5 linked regions of the Homo sapiens genome follow. The protein of the gene in region 2 interacts with the protein of the main gene of each other region in a pairwise test. Each region holds a gene or a part of one and is shown on either strand. Other genes may lie near its edges. The genes, in order: FBP2, PDGFRL, MAPKAPK3, TBC1D2 and ZNF510.

What was found.
Region 1: the proteins of PDGFRL (region 2) and FBP2 interact in a two-hybrid assay, tested with the Homo sapiens proteins (one large-scale study listed by BioGRID and IntAct).
Region 3: the proteins of PDGFRL (region 2) and MAPKAPK3 interact in a two-hybrid assay, tested with the Homo sapiens proteins (one large-scale study listed by IntAct).
Region 4: the proteins of PDGFRL (region 2) and TBC1D2 interact in a two-hybrid assay, tested with the Homo sapiens proteins (one large-scale study listed by BioGRID and IntAct).
Region 5: the proteins of PDGFRL (region 2) and ZNF510 interact in a two-hybrid assay, tested with the Homo sapiens proteins (one large-scale study listed by BioGRID and IntAct).

Annotation. Positions count from the first base shown.
Region 1 is NC_000009.12:94,591,023-94,595,335, forward strand, and holds the start of FBP2 (fructose-1,6-bisphosphatase isozyme 2), read right to left. Parts: upstream 2,803-4,313; 5' UTR 2,705-2,802; coding exon 2,535-2,704; intron 1-2,534.
Region 2 is NC_000008.11:17,580,203-17,583,717, forward strand, and holds part of PDGFRL (platelet-derived growth factor receptor-like protein precursor), read left to right. Parts: intron 1-3,515.
Region 3 is NC_000003.12:50,637,646-50,641,160, reverse strand, and holds part of MAPKAPK3 (MAP kinase-activated protein kinase 3), read right to left. Parts: intron 796-3,515; coding exon 656-795; intron 1-655. UniProt on the Homo sapiens protein: Stress-activated serine/threonine-protein kinase involved in cytokines production, endocytosis, cell migration, chromatin remodeling and transcriptional regulation.
Region 4 is NC_000009.12:98,221,150-98,224,664, reverse strand, and holds part of TBC1D2 (TBC1 domain family member 2A), read left to right. Parts: intron 1-3,436; coding exon 3,437-3,515. UniProt on the Homo sapiens protein: Acts as a GTPase-activating protein for RAB7A. Signal effector acting as a linker between RAC1 and RAB7A, leading to RAB7A inactivation and subsequent inhibition of cadherin degradation and reduced cell-cell adhesion.
Region 5 is NC_000009.12:96,775,280-96,779,559, forward strand, and holds the start of ZNF510 (zinc finger protein 510), read right to left. Parts: upstream 2,809-4,280; 5' UTR 2,755-2,808; exon of another isoform or gene 2,303-2,754; intron 967-2,302; 5' UTR 791-966; coding exon 721-790; intron 1-720. UniProt on the Homo sapiens protein: May be involved in transcriptional regulation.

The sequences.
Region 1 (4,313 bases), on a different chromosome or scaffold from region 2:
GAGCTAGATATAAAGACTCTCCACGTCCCCACCAGACTCAGGAGCCCAGCTGGCTTCACCTAGTGGATCCCGCACCGGGGCTGCAGGTGGAGCTGCCTGCCAGTCCTGCGCCGTGCGCGCGCATTCCTCAGCCCTTGGGTGGTCGATGGGACTGAGCGCTGTGGAGCGGGGGGTGGCGCTCGTCGGGGAGGCTCGGGCCGCACAGGAGCCCATGGAGTGGATGGGAGGCTCAGGCATGGCGGGCTGCAGGTCCCGAGCCCTGCCCCGCGGGAAGGCACCTAAGGCCCAGCGAGAAATCGAGCGCAGCGCCAGTGGGCCAGCACTGCTGGGGGACTCAGTACACCCTCCGCAGCCACTGGCCCGGGTGCTAAGTCCCCCATTGCCGGGGGCCAGCAGGGCTGGCTGGCTGCTCGGAGTGCGGGCCCGCCAAGCCCACGCCCACCCGGAACTCCAGCTGGCCCGCAAGCGCCGCACGCAGCCCCAGTTCCCGCTCGCACCTCTCCCTCCACACCTCCCTGAAAGCTGAGGGAGTGGGCTCCAGCCTTGGCCAGCCCAGAAAGTGGCTCCCACAGTGCAGTGGGGGGCTGAAAGGCTCCTCAAATGCCGCCAGTGGTCATTGACGGCTCAGGCACAGGCAAATCTGGTCTGGGCTTGGAACCGCGGTAGTGACAGGCACTGTGCGTGTCTTACGGGGCCGGCACAGTTGAAATCGTCATCACATGCGCTCGCTAACTCTGCAACAACCCTAAGAGTTAGGGATGCTACTATACTCTCCATTTCACAAAGGGAATCTAAGGTCCTAGCAAGAGTAAATCACGCCCATTATCACACGGTAGGAAATGCCAAATTAATAAGCACCTCAATTATCCAGTTCCTAGGGCCACTTTGTCTCCTTGCTCAACCGCCATAAAGTCAGAGTTTTGCAGCAGATAAGCAAGACCCCTACCATGGCAGCCACTGCCTAGCCAAGAGCCCTGCACAGAGGGGGAGCCCAATTTATGTGGATGAATCACCCTGAGATGGACTCAGGCAACCGCATTGAGGATAGCAGGGTCCGCACAGGGAGAGGCAAAGTCCCTGTCTACCGTCACTCAGCAGGGCTGTCACCCACAGGAGCAGAACAGGGCACCGCCTGCCCTCACATTCTGGAAGGCGATTAAATGCAGAGCGTGGCTGTTATTGCCAAATGAGGTAAAAACAGAGCTGAAGCATCCACCCACAGGAAAAAAGCAAGGATAATGCACCGTTAACCTGGGTCCTGCTACTGGGTCACCACCCCTAAATAAATACAGTCTGTGGTGATCAAATGATAATTACATCTTGTAATCTAATGCTATCACTTTTTGTGTTAAAAGCACTTAATTGCTCAGAGTAAATATTTTAAATGATTGGACTTTGTTAGCTCCTCATTTTGAGTCTCTTTCATCCCCAAAATATGTGTTCCTTCAGCTCCTGAGAGGACCTCCCCTGGAATTACTACAAGGGAAGCCCAAAGAAAGCTGGGGTTTTGTTTGTTTGTTTGTATGTTTTGAGATGGAATCTCGTCCTGTCACCCAGGCTGGAGTGCAGTGGTACGATCTCGACTCACCGCAACCTCCATCTCCCAGGTTCAAGCGATTCTCCTGCCTCAGCCTCCCGAGTAGCCGGGACTACAGGCGCCCGCCACCACACCCAACTAATTTTTGTATTTTTAGTAGAGACAGGGTTTCAACATGTTGGCCAGGATGGTCTTGATCTCTTGACCTCATGATCCACCCACCTTGGCCTCCCAAAGTGCCAGGATTACAGACAGGAGCCACCGTGCCTGGCCACCGGATTCTTTTTATTACAGACTTAAACTGGACACTGGGCTGTGACCATCAGCAGTGTAATGTGAACCTGGCCTCATCTATGCTCGGATAAAGCACCAAAGAGAACCCTGTGGAAGAAACCTCTGCGCTCCCCTCCCAGGACTAGCACCTCCCGGCTTCCTGCACACCAAGTGGAGGTGAAGATAAAGAAAGAGTCACAGAGAAGAAATAAAACACGTAGCCAGCAAAACACTCCTTTAGATGATGAGAGAGCAGATGCAGGAAGGGGCTCTACCAAGCTTCCTATGTCGTACATAATTTCCAGCTCCTAACATATTTGCAAAGCTTATTACAATAAAACACTCATGTCTGCAAGAGGCATAAAGAGATATTTCACGTCACCCCTCTACTTCTTTGTTCCAGTGAGACTCTCTCTGTGCAAGTACAAGTCATGATAACACAATACATATTTTAATGCAACAAGCCACTGCACTTGGTATCATTATAATAACTGGAAAAATTATATGTGTATTTCTTCATAGCATGTTTTCGTTCCTTTCTCAAAACAAGTCAAAGGCCCCTTTATCAAAGCACACATGATAGGAACTTGAAATGCAGCTTCCATCTAGGGCACACAGGGCCAATAAGCTTTGGACCCAGTTTCTTGCCAAAGCACCTGCAGCTCCCACACCCCTGCCTGGGCCTGGGGTGCTCTGTGCCCCATGCCTGCTCCCCAGGACTCACAGGTGGGCCAGACCGGCCTTGCGCACAGCCGAGGAGATGGCTTTGATGGCCGTCAGCATTGAGTTCAGCAGCTGGGTGAGCTCCCCAGTCCCTTTGGCCTGACGCCCCTTTTCCATAACGTAGCGGGTCAGGGTGAGCATGTCGGTTTCGAAGGGGCTTCTGTCCGTCATTTTGGCTGGAATGCTTCAAATCCTTTTCTCCCGGCAGGAAACCTTGCTTACTTCTGAGGGCTGCAGCTCCGCAGTGTGGAAGCCGATAAGAAATCTGTGCTGGCCCTGCCAGGATCTCTAAGGAAAAGGGCCCAAAACACATGACTCAAACAACTGCTGGGGCCCTCAAGGAACTCCCTCTGGCCTCGGGGACTGTGGCAGCTGCCAGGGAGCCGCAGCAGTCTGTAAATAGGACGGGCTGCCCAGAAACATGGAGCTGCTTTCTCCTGCTGAGCACCCCCTTTCAAGATACCAAGAAGCCACCATTTAGGCACAGGTGGGAGGTGAGAAATCCAGTTGATTAAAAAATGATGCATAAAACCCTCTTATTCCAGGCTCCAAAGGATTCTTCACATATAGTGACTGCAGGGCCTGGCTCTCCCGAGGGCGGAGGTGGCAGATTCGCAGGTTCCTTATCTGGGACGTAGGTCACATAGTAACATAATGGCAACCCCAGAATTCCTTTAGCCAGGGTTTGGAATAAGTTAGGAAAGAATGCTTTTTATTTCCAGTAGGCATGTATGACCAGTGGATATCCACAGTAGAGATCCAGATCCGGAAGAAAACTATTATATTCCTAGCACAGTTCCTGGCACCAGTGTTATTTTGTCAATATCTCTGGATGTCCACTTTTGTAACAAAAATTGCTTGTTAAAAAGGAAACACTAAAGAAGTGGATAAAGACAAACCTCCTCACCACCAGCCCATTCTCCCATCCCACTCTCCAGAAATCACTGCTGCTAGGGCTGGTGGCGGTCTGTGCAGCCAGTAGGCACTGGTGGGGTGCATATGGTGGTGGAAGCACTTTCTCTAGGGCCAGCCAGACCTGGCTGTGAGTCCCAAGCTAGCTATCTGTTGGTTGCATGATTTGAGAAAGTTATTAAACCCCTTGGAACCTCAGTTGTCTCACTCTTAAATGAGCATAACCGTGAAGCATCCATCTTATAGAGTGGCTGCAATGAGATGTACCTAGTATAGTAGGTGCTCAGTACTTTGTTACCTATTATTGCCCTTCCAGTTTTTTTTTTTTTTTTTTTTTTTTTTTTTGAGATGGAGTCTCACTCTGTCGCCCAGGCTGGAGTGCAGTGGCGTGATCTCGGCTCACTGCAAGCTCCGCCTTCCAGGTTCACGCTATTCTCCTGCCTCAGCCTCCCGAGTAGCTGGGACTACAGGCGCCTGCCACGACGCTTGGCTAATTTTTTGTATTTTTAGTAGAGACGGGGTTTCACCGTGTTAGCCAGGATGGTCTCGATTTCCTGACCTCGTGATCCGCCCGCCTCGGCCTCCCAAAGTGCTGGGATTACAGGCGTGAGCCATCACGCCCAGCCGCCCTTCCAGTCTTTCAATGTGCTCACAACTATTGTGCAATCATACATAATCTCATTTCACAAAACAGTACAACATGCACATTTCTCTGAAGGTCTTTTCCCCTGACAGTTATGTCGATTAGAATGTGTTCAGCTGCAAGAAATAGAACAACTAGAGCAATTTACACGTGGGGGTTTATTTCCTCATAGACCAGGAGTGCACTAGGAGGTGGTGGCTGGTGTTCATTCAGCTGTTCTTGGTT
Region 2 (3,515 bases):
GACATTCATTATTGTCTGAGAGCAATATAGCCAGATCTCTAAGAAGGTAAGGACAGAGACACAATGACGAGGATTCTCTAACCAAGAGCCTTTGACACTTTCGTGTCTTCGTTTATTTTTGAGAAAAAAAAAGAGTAAAAATTAGTACAGAAATATTTTAATGAAAAAAAGAATTCTAAAGTTCCTTATTGTTTATGAATGCACATAATGAATGCTTTGAAGCATTTAGGATCTTGGCTGGCATGTTTGACATACAAAACCATTTCTGATCCTTAAAACACAGAAAGAGAAAAGTTTGAGGGCAAGAGAGAGAGATCTGGTGGTCAGAGGACTGATGGTTTTCAAACCTAGACAAGGTTTTAAAACCCTTTCTTTGTGGTGCTCAATGAAGGGAGAGGAAAGATAAAGAAGTAAAGATACAATTTAAGGAAGTGGTAAGTGGCATCGAGAATCATGAATCAGGGTCTATTAGGTTCCTAGGGCTGCCATAACAAAGTACCACGGAATGGGAGGCTTTAAAACCGCAGAAGTTTGTTTGCTCACAGTCCAGAGGCTTGTAGTCCAAAGTCAGTGTCAGCAGCACCACACAGCTTCTAAGATGCGGGTAGAATCCTTCCCTGCCTCCACTAGCTTCTGGTTGTGGTCAGCAACCCCTTGGCATTTTTTTTAGCTTGTGGCCACATCACTCCAATCTCTGCCTCTGTTGCCATGTGACCATCTTCTCCCCGTGTCTGTCTTTACATGGCATTTTCATACGTGTGTGTGTGTGTGTCTCCTCATAAGAACATCAGTCCTATTGGAGGAGAGCCTACCCTAATGACCTCATGCTAACTTGATTACATTTGCAAAGACTCCATTCCTCAATGAGGTTACATTCACAGATACCTGGGAGTTAGGACTTCAGCATATCTTTTTAGGGGACACAATTCAACCAGTAAGACAGGGTGAGACATGGAGAGGACTGAGGCGGGGTGTGAGGATGCCGTTTGAATGGATAGCCATAAGCCTGCCTGAAACAAGGAAGCAAACCCCGGAGGTAGCTGACAGCAAAGCTGTGCACTCCAGGGGCACCACAAAGGCAATAGCTTCAAGATGGGCTTGTACCGGTTGCCAGTGTGGCTGTGGCTGTGATGCGTGGGACGGGAGCTGGCCAAGCCTTGTAGGGCATGGGAAGATTTAGGGCTGGCTTCTAGATGAGATGAAAGTCACTGGAGGCTTCTGAACGAAGAAGTACCCATAATTTGATTTATGTTTTCAAAGGTAGGTGCTATGGTTTGCCCCCACCACATCTTATGTTGAATTTTGATCCCCCATGTGGTGGTGGTGGTGGGAGGTAGGGCCTCATGGGAGGTGTTTGGGCCTTGGGGGTAGATCCTTCATGAAGAGATTAATGCCTTCCCTTGGGGATGTGTGGATTCTGTATTATTTCCAGCAAGAACTGCTTGTTAAAGAGAGTCTGGTCCCTCCTCCTCCCACCGCACCATGTGATCTCTGCACTGCTAGTTATCGTTGCCCTCTGCCCTGAGTGGAAGCAGTCTGAGGCCTTCATTGGAAGCAGATGTTGGTTCCATGCTTCTTGTACAGCCTGCAGAACGATGAGCCAAATAAACCTCTTTTCTTTATAAACAACCCAGCCCTACGTATTCCTCTATAGCAATGCGAAATGAACTAACACAGAAAATTGGTACCAAGGAGTGGGATATTGCTATAAAGATACCTGAAAGTGTGGAAGCAGCTTTGGAACTGGGTACTGGGCAGAGAATCGGAAGAGTTTGGAGGGCTCAGAAGAAAACAGCAAGAGGAGGGAAAGTTTGGAATTTCTTAGAGATTGGTTATATAGTTGTGACTAAACTGTTGATAGAAATATAGACAGTAAAGTTCATGCTGACAAGGTCTGAAATGGAAACAGATAACTTATTGGGAGCTGGAGAAAAGTCACCCTTGTTAGGCCTTAGCAAAGAACTTGGCTGCATTGTGTCCATGCCCTAGGGATTTTGGAAGGCCACACTTAAGAGTGATGTCCTAGGGTATCCTAAAGAAGAAATTTTTAATCAGCAAAGTGCTCAAGTAGTGGTGGGTGTGGCTGGGTTTAAAAGCTTAGGATCAGCCGGGCAGGGTGGCTCACGCCTGTAATCCCAGCACTTTGGGAGGCAGGCGGATCATGAGGTCAGGAGATCGAGACCAGCCTGGGCAACATGGTGAAACCCTGTCTCTATTACAATACAAGAAGTTAGCCTGATGTCGTGGTGCGCACCTGTAGTCCCAGCTACTTGGGAGGCTGAGGCAGGGGAGTCGCTTGAACTCGGGAAGAGGAGATTGCAGTGAGCTGAGATCAGGCCACTGTACTGCAGCCTGGTGACAGAGTGAGACTCTGTCTCAAAAAAAAAAAAAAAAAAAACTTAGGCTCAAGATCAATTACAGCAGCAAAGGAATGACCTAAAGGTAGAATTTATTATGAAAAGGGAAGCAGAGAGTAAAAGTTTGGAAAATCTGAAGCCTGGCCATGTGGCAGAGAATGAAAGAGCATTTTGGGAAAAGAATCCAAGGGCACAGTTGAGAGACTGCTTGAATCATGCTAGTAGCTAAGAAAATAAGAGAAAGGCCTTATAGCCATTTTGGAAATCTTTGAGGAGCCCCTCCCATCCCAGGCCCAGAGACTCAGGAGAATAGAATGGTTTTGGGGGGCAGGCCCTGCTGCTCTTCTGCCGTGCACCACCTCGGGATGCTACTGCCCCTATCTCAGGTGCACCAGCTCTAGCCTTCACTTAAAAGGTCCCAGGTGTGGTTCCAGATGGGCGAATAAGAGCAGAAGAGGCCAATAAGCAGAACAGAGAGGTTGCTCCAGAGGGCACAAGTTATAAATAAACCTTGGAGGCTTCCACATGTTGTCAAGTCTGCATATTCCCAGAATGCAAGAGTGATGGAGGCTTAGCTTCCACCTAGATTTCAGAGGATGTATCAGAAAGCCTGAGTGTGCGAGCAGAAGCCTGCTACAGGGGCAGAACTAACACAGAGAGTCCCTACCAGGGCACTGCCTAGGGGAGCCATGGGAACAGGGCTCATGTGGGGATCCCAGAATTAGAGAGCCACCAGCAGTATGCACCCTCACCTTGGAAAACAAACAGACATTCAACTCCAACCTGTCAGATCAGCCATGTGGGCTTCACCCAGCCAAGTTAGAGGGGTGGGGAGGGCGAAGGCTTGTTTTTGATTTTCCAGGCTCACAGCTGTAAGGAACTTGCCTCAAGCTCAGATGAGACTTTGGACTTTTGAGTTGATGCTGGAACAAGTTAAGATTTCGGGGACTATTGGGAAAGGATGCTTGTAATTTGCAGTATTTGAAAGACATGAGTTTTGGGGGGCCAGAGGTGCAATGCTATGATTTGGATATTTGACCTCCTCCTAACCTCATGTTGAAATTTGATCACCAGTGTTGGTGGTGGGGCCTAATGGGAGGTGTTTGAGTCGTGGGGGTGGACCCCTCATGAATGGCTTGTTGCCCTCCTGGAGGTAAT
Region 3 (3,515 bases), on a different chromosome or scaffold from region 2:
ATGGAGTCAAGCACAGGGTAAATGCTACATTAAGATCTTTCCCACATCTTACATCTGAGTTACAGAGATTCAGAGAGGTTAAGAGCTGCCCACGGTCACATAGCTAGTGGGTAGCAGAGGCAGGATCTGAACCCCAAATCTGAAGAACTGGCTAACCGGTCCAAGGATGGCTGGTGCTGAGCCATGGTGTTACAGGAAGAAGCCCAGGGTGGAAAAGGCCACTGGCTCCTGGTTCTAGGCCCCAAGCACCCAGTTCCTGGTGGGACCATGGGAGCACATACCCAGGTCAAAAGGAGAGAAAGCTGAGGGAACTGCGTGGGTCCTGTTCTTCCCCAAATCCCCCATCCATCCATATTCAGGGATTGGGAGCCTTCTCTGACAGCTCTTCCAGTCCTCCTCACAGAGTAGAAATCACACTCAGGGAGGCCATATTAACCCCTGTGGTTTCTTGCCCACCCTTGAGGGAATGTCCTTATGGCCAACTCCATAGATCCACAGGCAGGGCCTGCGGCTGCCTGCTCCATTGCCCCTCAGGGGCTACAGTGGCACCCAGATCTGCTACCTGAAAAACAAAGAAAGCCCCTAGAAGCGTGGCAGGGAGCCTGAGGGCCACAGGGATGCCGAGGGGGTGTGGAGACAGGGCAGGCCAGCATACCATTCCATGATGATGAGGAGACAGCGCTTGCCATGGTGCATGTTCTCATACACATCCAGGATGCAGACAATATGGGGGCCGCCAGAAGCCTGCCAGTGATGGTCTACCTCCTGCCGGGCCTTGGGGCTGTCATACAGGAGCTGTAGGTGGGTGCACATAGAAAGTGTCAGGCTCAGAGCCCTCTACCATCATTTTGCAGACAAAAACATATAAGCTCTGAGGCCTGTGACCTGCCCCAGGTCACACAGCTTATAAGGAGCAGAATGAGAATTTGAATCTAGGTTTCTCTGACTTGTGGTCCAGTGAGCCTCTGGACTTGAGGGTCAGTCCTGGGCTCAAGCAGCTTGGCAGGTAGTTCAAGGAGTCCGTAGGAGGTGGCTGACTGCTTCGAGGGGCTCAGAGGCCAAAGAAGCCCTTGCTTCCCTTCTCAGATGGAAATTGAGTGGGTTTTATAACCCCACTCTAATCACACAGCAGCCATGGGACCCCAAGCCAGGGGCCACACATCCCTTGAGCCTCATTTTTACCATAAGGATGACACAGCTGTTCCATTTCCTAGGCTAGGGTTGGAAATTGTACATGTAAATTGTACAGGATAGCACCTGGTACATAGTAGGCCCTTGGTGCCTCCCTTGTGATTCTCACCCTGGGCATCTATGAGAAATGTAAGTGTAGAAGCAGAAGGTGCTGGGGAAAGGCTGGGGAGGGGAGAGGGTGCACTAACACGCAAATCTGCCCTACAGGACTCAGCATGATCAGGAGAGTGCTGGAGTGAGAAGGAAGACTTCCTGCAGGAGAGGTTGAGGCCTGTGTCTGTCAATCTATCTCCCACAAAGAAACTGGCCCAGAGTGGAGGGAGACAAGGCCACACTCCTGTAGGGGTAAAAGTAATTAAGACTTCAGATTCTCCAGGAGTGGGCATGAGAACAAAACTCTCACTACCAAGAAAAGTGCTTCTAAAATGAGTTGCTTGGTCATGACCACCCAGTCAGTACCCAGCTCCCAAGGTAACTTTATAGCCTTCCTGGGAGCTGCTATGCAGTACCAGGGCGACAATGTCATCGCACTGTGAGAGAGGTGGGGCCATCTCAAGGTGACCTAGCTGCCCAGCCTCCACCCTCATTCCATGCTTACAGATCACCGGTAAGGACCCAGAGGTAGAGACTGGGGGAAGGGAGGACCCTAGTTGAGGGAGATGACAGCTGAGTGGAGTGAGATGTGGGTTTGGGATTGAATTCCTCCAATGACTCGGTGTGACCTCAGGCATACATTCACAGCTCCAAGCTGCAGCCCACAACTCTGTAAAATGGTATAATAGCAGAGTCATCCCCACAGGGTGCATCCCAGCCAAGGCAAGCATCCAGTGGGCGGGCATCAGGATCCTTGCTCGGGTTAACTCAGCCCTGGACTGTGGCTGCCAACCAGCACCAGAAATGAACAAGGCCTCACAGTGGCCCTGCTGTAGGGGGAGAAGAAGAAGTCAGCATGCATGAGGAGATGGCCCAGAATGGGGACAGCAGGGACAAGCCACCCCCAAAAAGGGTTGCTCACTCAAGGACCATCTGTGACACTGTGTTTCCTAATGGAGGAGGGCTGGGGACCAGGGCTGATGCTCAAGACCGGGGCTCGGATCAGCACTGCTCAGCAGCCATAGGACCCTGGGCTGCCCCAGCCTTAATTTCCTCCTCTGCAGGATGGGGAGAGCCAGGCCACTTTACACAGGGCACTGTTAGGGGCAGGCTCTGTGACCATGCACGCTCTCTAGGTAAAGACAAACTGGGTCAGGGCAGTGTCCCAGAGAGGGGAGAGGCAGGCAGTGGTTTCTCGAGCCTGCTGCCCCTTGGCTGTCCCTCCTTTTCTGGAGCTGCTCCCCTCAACCCTAGCCTGGGAATACAGGCAGTGCAAGGAATACAGAGAGCCAGGGGCTGGACAAGCCCTCTAGCAGCTCTGTGCCCCTGCTCCATTACCCAGAGCAGGCTGGGGGTGTGCGTCAAGGCTGCTGTGGGCAGACACTCCTGCCTGGACACCATGGATCCTTGCTCATGCTGCCCTTGCCTTCCAGAACACCCCTCAGGTTAGTGCCCGCACAATTCCCAATCACCAGCTTCTTTCTCAGCACTGGGACCAGAAAGCTCAGTGCCCCCCACTTGCCTCCACCATGTCCTGTGGCGGCCCTAGCTAGGGGTACCCCAATCCTCAGCCACAGGAGCCAAGAGGTACCATCCTCCCTCCCTGCACCGGGTTCCTTCTTTGCCTCCTCCCCCTCCCCCTGCCTGGTTCTCTCCTCCCCAGTCTGACCTGACCATCTCCTGTCAGGCCTCCCAGGCTGGCTCCCACACTCCCTCCTCACTGCCTGCCTTGTGGCATCTCACTCCCACATCAGAGTCCTCCTCTTCTCTCTTAAAAGTCCAAGCTCACAGCTGGAATGCTTTCATTAGGGTCCTCAGCCCTGCCTCTCCCCTTATGACTCTAATCCACCTGTGGCCACAGACACTTCCTCACATCTTCCAGATAAATGTCCTCCCCCAGCACGCAGGGCTTGCCTTCCTTTCCCACCTCACTTCCTGCCACCTCTGGGCCAAAACCACTTTGTTCTGGCCAGAAAAATATATATGTTGTTCCCAAACAGGCCTTACTCCCCCAGGCCTCTGTGTCTAGGTCTGTGCTGGTCCCTGTCATGTGCATTCTTGCCTCATCCTCTCTGTTGGGTCAACTCCCTCTTTTTGGGGAAACTTCAGGGCTCAATTCAGATCGATCAATCTCTCTCTCTCTCTGTCTCCATCTCTCTCTCTCTCTCTCTCTCTCTCTCTCTTTCTCTCTCTGGAAAGTCCTCCCAGCACCTTTTTTTCTTTTTCTTTTC
Region 4 (3,515 bases), on a different chromosome or scaffold from region 2:
ATAAAGTGACAACTTATGACCACGTATCAAAATCTGAGATGAACCAAACAACTCGATTGAGAAATATTAAAAGTACCACTTGGGCCGGGCATGGTGGCTCACACCTATAACCCCAACACTTTGGGAGGCCAAGGTGGGAGGATCTCTTGAGCCCAAGAGTTCAAGACCACCCCGAACAACATAGGGAGACCCTGTCTCTACAGAAAATAAAATAATTAGCTGGGCAATGTGGTGCATGCCTGTAGTCCCAGCTACAAGGGAGACTGAGGCAAGAGAATCTCTTGAGCCCAGGAGGTTGAGGCTGCGGTGGGCCGTGATTGCGCCACTGCACTCCAGCCTGGGCAACAGAGTGAGACCCTGTCTCAAAAAAAAAAAAAAAAAAAAGAAAAGAAAAAAAAACACTTCAAAAAGCTTAATTTCATCAACCCCTCTATTTTTCTTTTCTTTTCTTTTCTTTTTTTTTTTTTTGAGATGGAGTCTCGCTCTGTCGCCCAGGCTAGAGTGCAGTGGTGCGATCTCAGCTCACTGCCAGCTCCGCCTCCCGGGTTCACACCATTCTGCCTCAGCCTCCTGAGTAGCTGGGACTACAGGCACCCGCCACCACGCCTGGCTAATTTTTTTGTATTTTTAGTAGAGACGGGGTTTCACCATGTTAGCCAGGATGGTCTCGATCTCCTGACCTCGTGATCCGACCGCCTTGGCCTCCCAAAGTGCTGGGATTACAGGCGTGAGCCACCACGCCCGGCCCAACCTATTTTTAAGAATTGGTCCTAAGACATTGCTTATAATCCAGACTTTAGGTTTCTTGAATTCATGACATTCTCACTCCTCATCTTACAAGTCCTACTGAGGCTCCCTCCCTCTGCCCTGGTTCCGTTCTTTTAAGCCTATTTTATTCTGGTACAAGAATTCTGGGGGTGGGAGGAGAGCCTCCTGGGCTGGTGTCTCAGTCTTAGATTCTGGGAGCCAAATGCGGGAAGGAGACAGCTAGATGTAATGAAATAAGCTTCAGAGTCAACTAACTCCCCAAATTGAGGGAAAGACACCCACTGGTCCTGCTCCTAGGGCAAGTCTGAACAATGATGTCTGTTGGTTATTTCCCTGGGCAGTCATCCAAGGTAACCTCCAAATCTCAGCTGAAGCAGAAAATGGCCTAGGCCCCCAGTTTTCCTGGAACCACAGGAATGTTAATCTCTCTCCACTGAGCCCTGAGAAGCTGACTTCTTCATTCTGGACGTTCCAAACATTCCCTTTTGGTTTGCAATCACTGTGCTGTCCTCACCCCAACTTCCTGCCACACCCCAGGGCTCCCACAGCTCCATGGTAGCTCTTTCCTTCCTCCAGGTCTTTACTGGGGCTGTAGCTTGGCCACATCTGGAGGGCCATCCCCACCCTCATCTCCCACCTGCTGCTCGACCATCTCTGGCCCTTCTCATTCTTCACAGTTTCTTTTAAATGCTCTGGACTGGTATTCCCCACAACCTCCACCCCAGACAGAAGTCATTGCCTTTCCCACAAACACCCTTGTTCCCCTGACTTGCAGTAGATCATTCCACTGTGGTGGGTCATGTTCATTCCCACCAGCCTTTGCAGTCCTTGGAGGTGGGAACTCTCACCACTCCCTCTCTGGGCCACGGCACCTGGCTCAGGGCCTGGCCTGGCACCGAGTGGTGCTTGGTAAAGGTTGGATGGATGGATGGGCATGTGGAAGGAAAAGAGAGAACCAGAGAAAGGATGGTCACTAGTCCTAAGGTTTCAGAAGATGCAGGCTAATGTGGTCTTGTCATTAGCTTCTCCAAAAAAGTCATGGTTTTTGGCAGTTTTCCTCCAATATAGAATTGTTCTTAGCAAATAAGGCTATCCAGCCAATCCACTCATTTTAATACTTTGGTGTGGTATAGTTGACATGTCTCTAGGAAACCATGTTTTTCCAAATGAGAAGCACAGAGCAGGGCAGTGTTGCCTGAAAGTCATACCTACCTGGTATTAGTTCCACGTGGACCTGGCTGCTGATGTCCTGATCCTGGCCCAGAACAAATTCACATCCCTGCTTTGGGACAGATAGGCCTGAGTCCAGGCGTGGCCCTCCCTGGGGAAATTACAGGCTTAAAGGCACAGGGAGCTGAGCAGACCTTGAGTTCCTGTGTGAATTAGTTGCCCCTGCTGAGGAATAAATCAAGCTCTATTGTTTCTGAACTTTCTAGAGTTCCTTCCACCAGCTTTGCAGGCATCGGCTGGTGGGCTGAAGGTAACTAGGCACAAATGGCTTGAATGAGGTCCTCTGTGTGTGGCTTTACATGGGGATTGCCAGTGTATTTCCTCTTTAACCCTGACTCAACTTGATTGGTAGTGACTGGCTGCTATATTGAGAATGATTCTGAGGCCTCAACTAGGGTAGGCTGTGCAGGAAGAAGTATGGGAGATTAATTAGTGATGTCTGCCACAGGGATGAGAGGGAAGAGTAATGCCACATAGCTGCCACCCCTGGTTTTCTTAGTTACTGAGCACAGGCTTTGGAATCTAGCCAATTGAGATTGAATTCCATTCTACTCTCTGCTGGGCCTCAGTTTGTTCATCCCTGAAATGGATGTGTATATGTCAGGGTATGGGTTCAGCTGCTGTGACAAAAACATCTCCACTGGGTGTGGTGACTCATACCTGTAATCCCAGCACTTTGGAAGGCCAAGGTGGGCAGATCATTTGAGTCCAGGAGTTTGAGACCAGCCCGGCAACATGGCAAAACCCCTTCTCTACAAAAAAATACAAATATTAGCCTGGTGTGTTGGCATGTTCCTGTGGTCCCAGCTACTTGAGAGGCTAAGGTGGGAGGATCAGCTGAGCCCAGGAGATTGAGGCTACAGTGAGCCATGTCTGTGCCACTGCACTCCAGGCTGGGTAACAGAGGGAGACGCTATCTCAAAAAAAAAAAGTTTCAAAGCACTGTGGCCCAAAACGAGTGAGAGGTTTCTCATTCACATTAAAGAACCCAGAGGTAGGTGAGCAACTCTGAGCTGGGGGGCAGCCCTTTCTCAACATGTACCTTCTGCTGTGGGTCTGAGGCGGCCACTCTAGTTCCTGCCACTTCCCAGCCAGAAGCAAAGAGAACTGGACCAGAGGAGCGTGTATCTAGTGGTTTTAAAGGTAGGACCCAGAAGCTGCCCATCTCACTTTTCATTTCCCATTTAGGCAGAATAGTTACTTGGCTACACCTCACCATGGCTTGGCTGGGAGATGCAGTTTTAAGCTGGGGAACCATGTGCCCAGCTAACAGTCACTTGAACAGAGAAGGAGAAAGTGAGTGTCAGGATGAGATGCCGCAGGGATGCTGCTGGGCACCTCTCACGGTTGTTAGGAGAACTACTGATAACATATACCCCACTGTGGCGCCCAGCAGGCCCTCCCTGAGCTCACAAGATTCTTCCCTCTCCCTGCCCAGGAGCTAGTGAAGATCCTGCACAAGGCACTGGAGGCCGCCCAGCAGGAGAAGCGGGCGTCCAGCGCATACCTGGCGGCGG
Region 5 (4,280 bases), on a different chromosome or scaffold from region 2:
GAACTCCTGACCTCAAGCAATCTGCCCGCCTTGGCCTCCCAAAATGCTGGGATTGCAGGGGTGAGCCACCAGGCCTGGCCCCTTGCTGTTTTTCATCAGGCGATTGTAGACTATTTTCCTATTGATTTATTTAAAATGTATGTCTTCTTTGACTAACAACTTAAACAGAATTAACATTAATATTCTGTTAATATTATTTACACCAATAGAAAACACAAAACTGAAAAAAAGGAGATGCTGAAAGACTATTTTAAAATATTTTTGTTCTAACTTATAGTTTCTCAAAAGACTTTCGATAAGACACTTCTGGTGACTCACCTGTGACAGAGTGAACAGCACTGTGCTTTGCTCCAAGCTCTGTCCTGAGTGACCATGGACAAACTGTTCATCCTAGGTTCAATACTTTTTAAGGTTTTAAGAGTCAGAAATAGAAATCCTTTCCTGTATTATCATTTTTGTGATTCTACAGGTTCAGGATAGAGGCAACCTTAGTAAATTTCTAGATGCTACATGTGATGGATGTTGTGTGAGAGTGACTCAGAATCTGGAAAGAGTGAGGCAAGAATGAAGAAAATGGGGGCTCTATGAGGAGGATTAGAGACAATTTCCTCAGCCCTGGCTGGTTATGCCTTCCTTGGAGACCATGGAGAAAAGCCCTCCAGTAATGTGGCTTTTCCTGTGCAGTCTGACAGTCACCCACGCCTCTCAACCCCAGCTTACCACCTTCTGCAAGTTGGCCCACAGTGTTCAGTGTCACACAATCTGTGATGGCTTCTGGATGTGGCGACATCACCAAGTCTGGTGCTCTCTGGGCAAGGGGATGAAGAAGTGCCGCTGGTTGGGCAAATCAAGACCTGCTCCTTTCTGGGTTCTTCTGCATCTGTTTGGAAGCCCTGGTGAGGAGGTCTCTGTTCTGTCAGAGAGCAGTTCTTCGGTGGGACTCCTGTTCCTGGGGCTCCCTCCTTCCTGCAACATAAAGAGCTGCTTTGCTCCAGAGAAGCTGGGGCTGATGCCTGGGTAACAAATTTATTTTAGTTGAAACTTTCATGGAAAACAGTGTTCTTCACGTCAGCACAACTTCCATTTTGGGCTGGATAATCCTCTGACATAAGGAGTGGTCCTGTGCATTGCAGGATGTTTAAGAGCATTTCTAAACATGCACTAGACACTAGGACACCCCTTCTCCCTGTTGTGACAATCAGAAACGTCTCCAGGCCGGGCGTGGTGGCTCACGCCTGTAATCCCAGGACTGTGGGAGGCCAAGGCAGGTGGATCACCTGAGGTCAGGAGTTCAAGATAAGCCTGGCCAATATGGTGAAACCCCACCTCTACTAAAAATACAAAAAATTAGCTGGGCATGGCCATGCATGCTTGTAATTCCAGCTGAGATTACAAGCTGGGAGGCTGGGGCAGGAGAATCAGTTGAACCTGGGAGGTGGAGGTTGCAGTGAGCCAAGATCACACCACTGCCCTCCAGCCTGGGCGACAGAGAGAAACTCAGTCCCCTCTCCCCCCACCAAAAAAGTCTCCAACATTTCCAAAGTTCCCTAGGGAGCAAAATCCTCCTGGTGAAGAAGTGACCTAAGGCCTTAAACCTGATTCTCTTGGCATTAATTAGAACCCTGCTATCCATGACTACAGCCTCCAATCACATCAACTACTGAGCACTGGAAATGTGGCTAGGACCACATGTTGAAATAACATTTTGGATACACTGAGAAAACCACAGTATGTTCTTAAAATTAATTTCATGTTTTAGATTTTCATGTAGCTACTAGTTTAACATTTAAAATTACGTATGTGACTCATCTTCACTGCCCTAGAATATCAGACTGACTTCTAAAGACAGAGACAGGAGGGACAGCACAGGAGGTGGCAGGGGCCTCAGTCTAACCCAGAGGCTCTGGAGACATCCCAGAAACCCCACAACAAATACACTTGCCACATAGTAAGATTCTGTCCACACTGACTTCACAATCATTGTCCTGGGGTTTTGGGGACAATCACTCAGTGCTGTGAAGGCTGCAATGCTGGGTTAGGTAGGTAGGCCATTACAAACAGCCTGATTCGGGGAGTAAAGTGTTTATGTATTGACATCCTAGCTCTCTCATCCTTTGTGAGCTTGGCTCTATCTTTTCACTCCTCCTTCTTCATTTTTAATGATATAAATAGGGTGGTTGTGAGAATTAAACGAAATACTACATGAAAAGAACAAAGTGTCTTCCAAATATAACGGGAATCAACATTTACATGCTGCTTAGTAACTAGCGCTTAGCTAAATGCTTTACAGGGGATGGCTTACCTCTGAACGACACAAAGCAGTTTTTACTAATATCCTCATTTTCAAACGCTCAAGTGACAGAGCCAAAATTCACGAGGTCCTTCTAGCTCCTAGGCTCGGCCTCTCACCGCAGACCCACGGGCTGTACGCGCTTTGTGGCAGGTTCATGGTCAATACAATAAACGCGCATTCCCCTCCTGAAGCCAGCACCGCGTTTTCCGACGCCTGGCTGCATTCTGGCGCCCATACCTCGGCCCGCACCGAGCATCTTCCAACTAGGACTCAGCCCCACCTAACGCCCCCGGAGCCCGCCCCCACCGGCCCTTCTCAGGCTGAGGTCCCGGGCCGGCCGAGGCACAGGGAGCGACGGCCTGCTTTGGGGGAGTTCCCGGGACGTCGCGTTCCCGCCCCCTGGACACTAGCACATCCCTCCCTGCAGGTCCGCAATCCGCGTGGAGGCCCGGCGCTCTCACCTGAGCTGCGAACCCTCTGCACCAGCAAACACTAACAGGGAGAAGCCGGAAAGTGGGGTTGACTGCACATGCGCAGACGAAAACGCGCATATCCGTTCCCAGCATGCTGCGCGGTAACCCATAACATGCAAGACTACGTTTCACATGCAGTACGGCGCCAGCTGTCAGTGTTTTTTTGTTTGTTTTTCCCCCAAGATTTATGGCGTAATAACATGGACCGTCCTGATAACTGGAGCCCGGGTTCTGTCAGAGCCCCAGAGGTTGTGGGTTAGACTTGATGACATAACAGCAAATGCAGCGTGTGGTTACAGAAAGCAAGAGCCGCGGAAGACGTTTGAAAACAATTGGGAAAATTTGTATACGGACTGGAAATTAGAATTATTAATTAATTGTGGCAGCATTGGGATTATGTAGGTAATCTTGCTTATTCATAAAGAGATGTCTATGTAAGTATTTAGGATTGTATTATGTTTGTAAGTTTTTGGGTTTTTTGGTTTTTTTTTTTTTTTTTGAGACGGAGTCTTACTCTGTCGCCCAGGCTGGAGTGCAGTGGCGCGATCTCGGCTAACTGCAACCTCCGCCTCCCGGGTTCAAGCGATTCTCCTGCCTCAGCCTCCCAAGTAGCTGGGACTACAGGCGCCCGCCACTACGCCCAGCTAATTTTTGTATTTTTAGTAGAGACGGGGTTTCACCATGTTGGCCAGGCTGGTCTCGAACTCCTCACCTCAAGTGATCCGCCTGCCTTGGCCTCCCAAAGTGCTGGGTATACAGGCGTGAGCTACCACTCCCGGCCCGTTTGTAAGTTCTTTTTAAAAAATAATTAGAAATGGGAAGTATGGCAAAATGTTAAGAATATCTACTTCTAGAATATGGACATGCTTATTGACTATGTGTTGGAAAATTTTATAATATAAAGTTGATAAAGGGAAAATTGGGACTGTAATGTTACAAGTGTGCCTTTTAACTTAGAGCTGCCACAAAAATACATAAACAGCTTTGTGAATAAAGCCGTAAAATGTAACAAATACTAGAAAATGGAAACCATTATTAACATAAAAGAATAATATTTGTGATCCTCAGTTTATCTCTGGGGGGAAAAAAAGAAAAAGCAAGTAAGCTGTTCAGCATTACATAATACCTGAAGTACACACAATCCCAACTAAGAAAACCGTTATCCACAAATTATGCATCTCCTAGAGATGAGCTTGCTTAAATCTTATGTGGTATGCTTCTGAAATCAGGAACCAAATTAGGAACCTCTCAGCACAGTATTTTATGACACTCTTTTTAGTAACACACATACACTCACACACACACGGTTGATACTTTCTAACAGGTTATTTTATATGGCAATGATAAGTTTTGATTAGCAAGAAAAAAGATTAATGGCAACAGTAAACTAGTGCAGTATATATGAATCAAGGTATAAAATTTTACTGTTGACACTGAAAAACACTTTAATAGATACTGGAGGAAAAGACTAACATTTGTTTTTAAAAATTCTAATCATCTATGTTTTCTAAGTA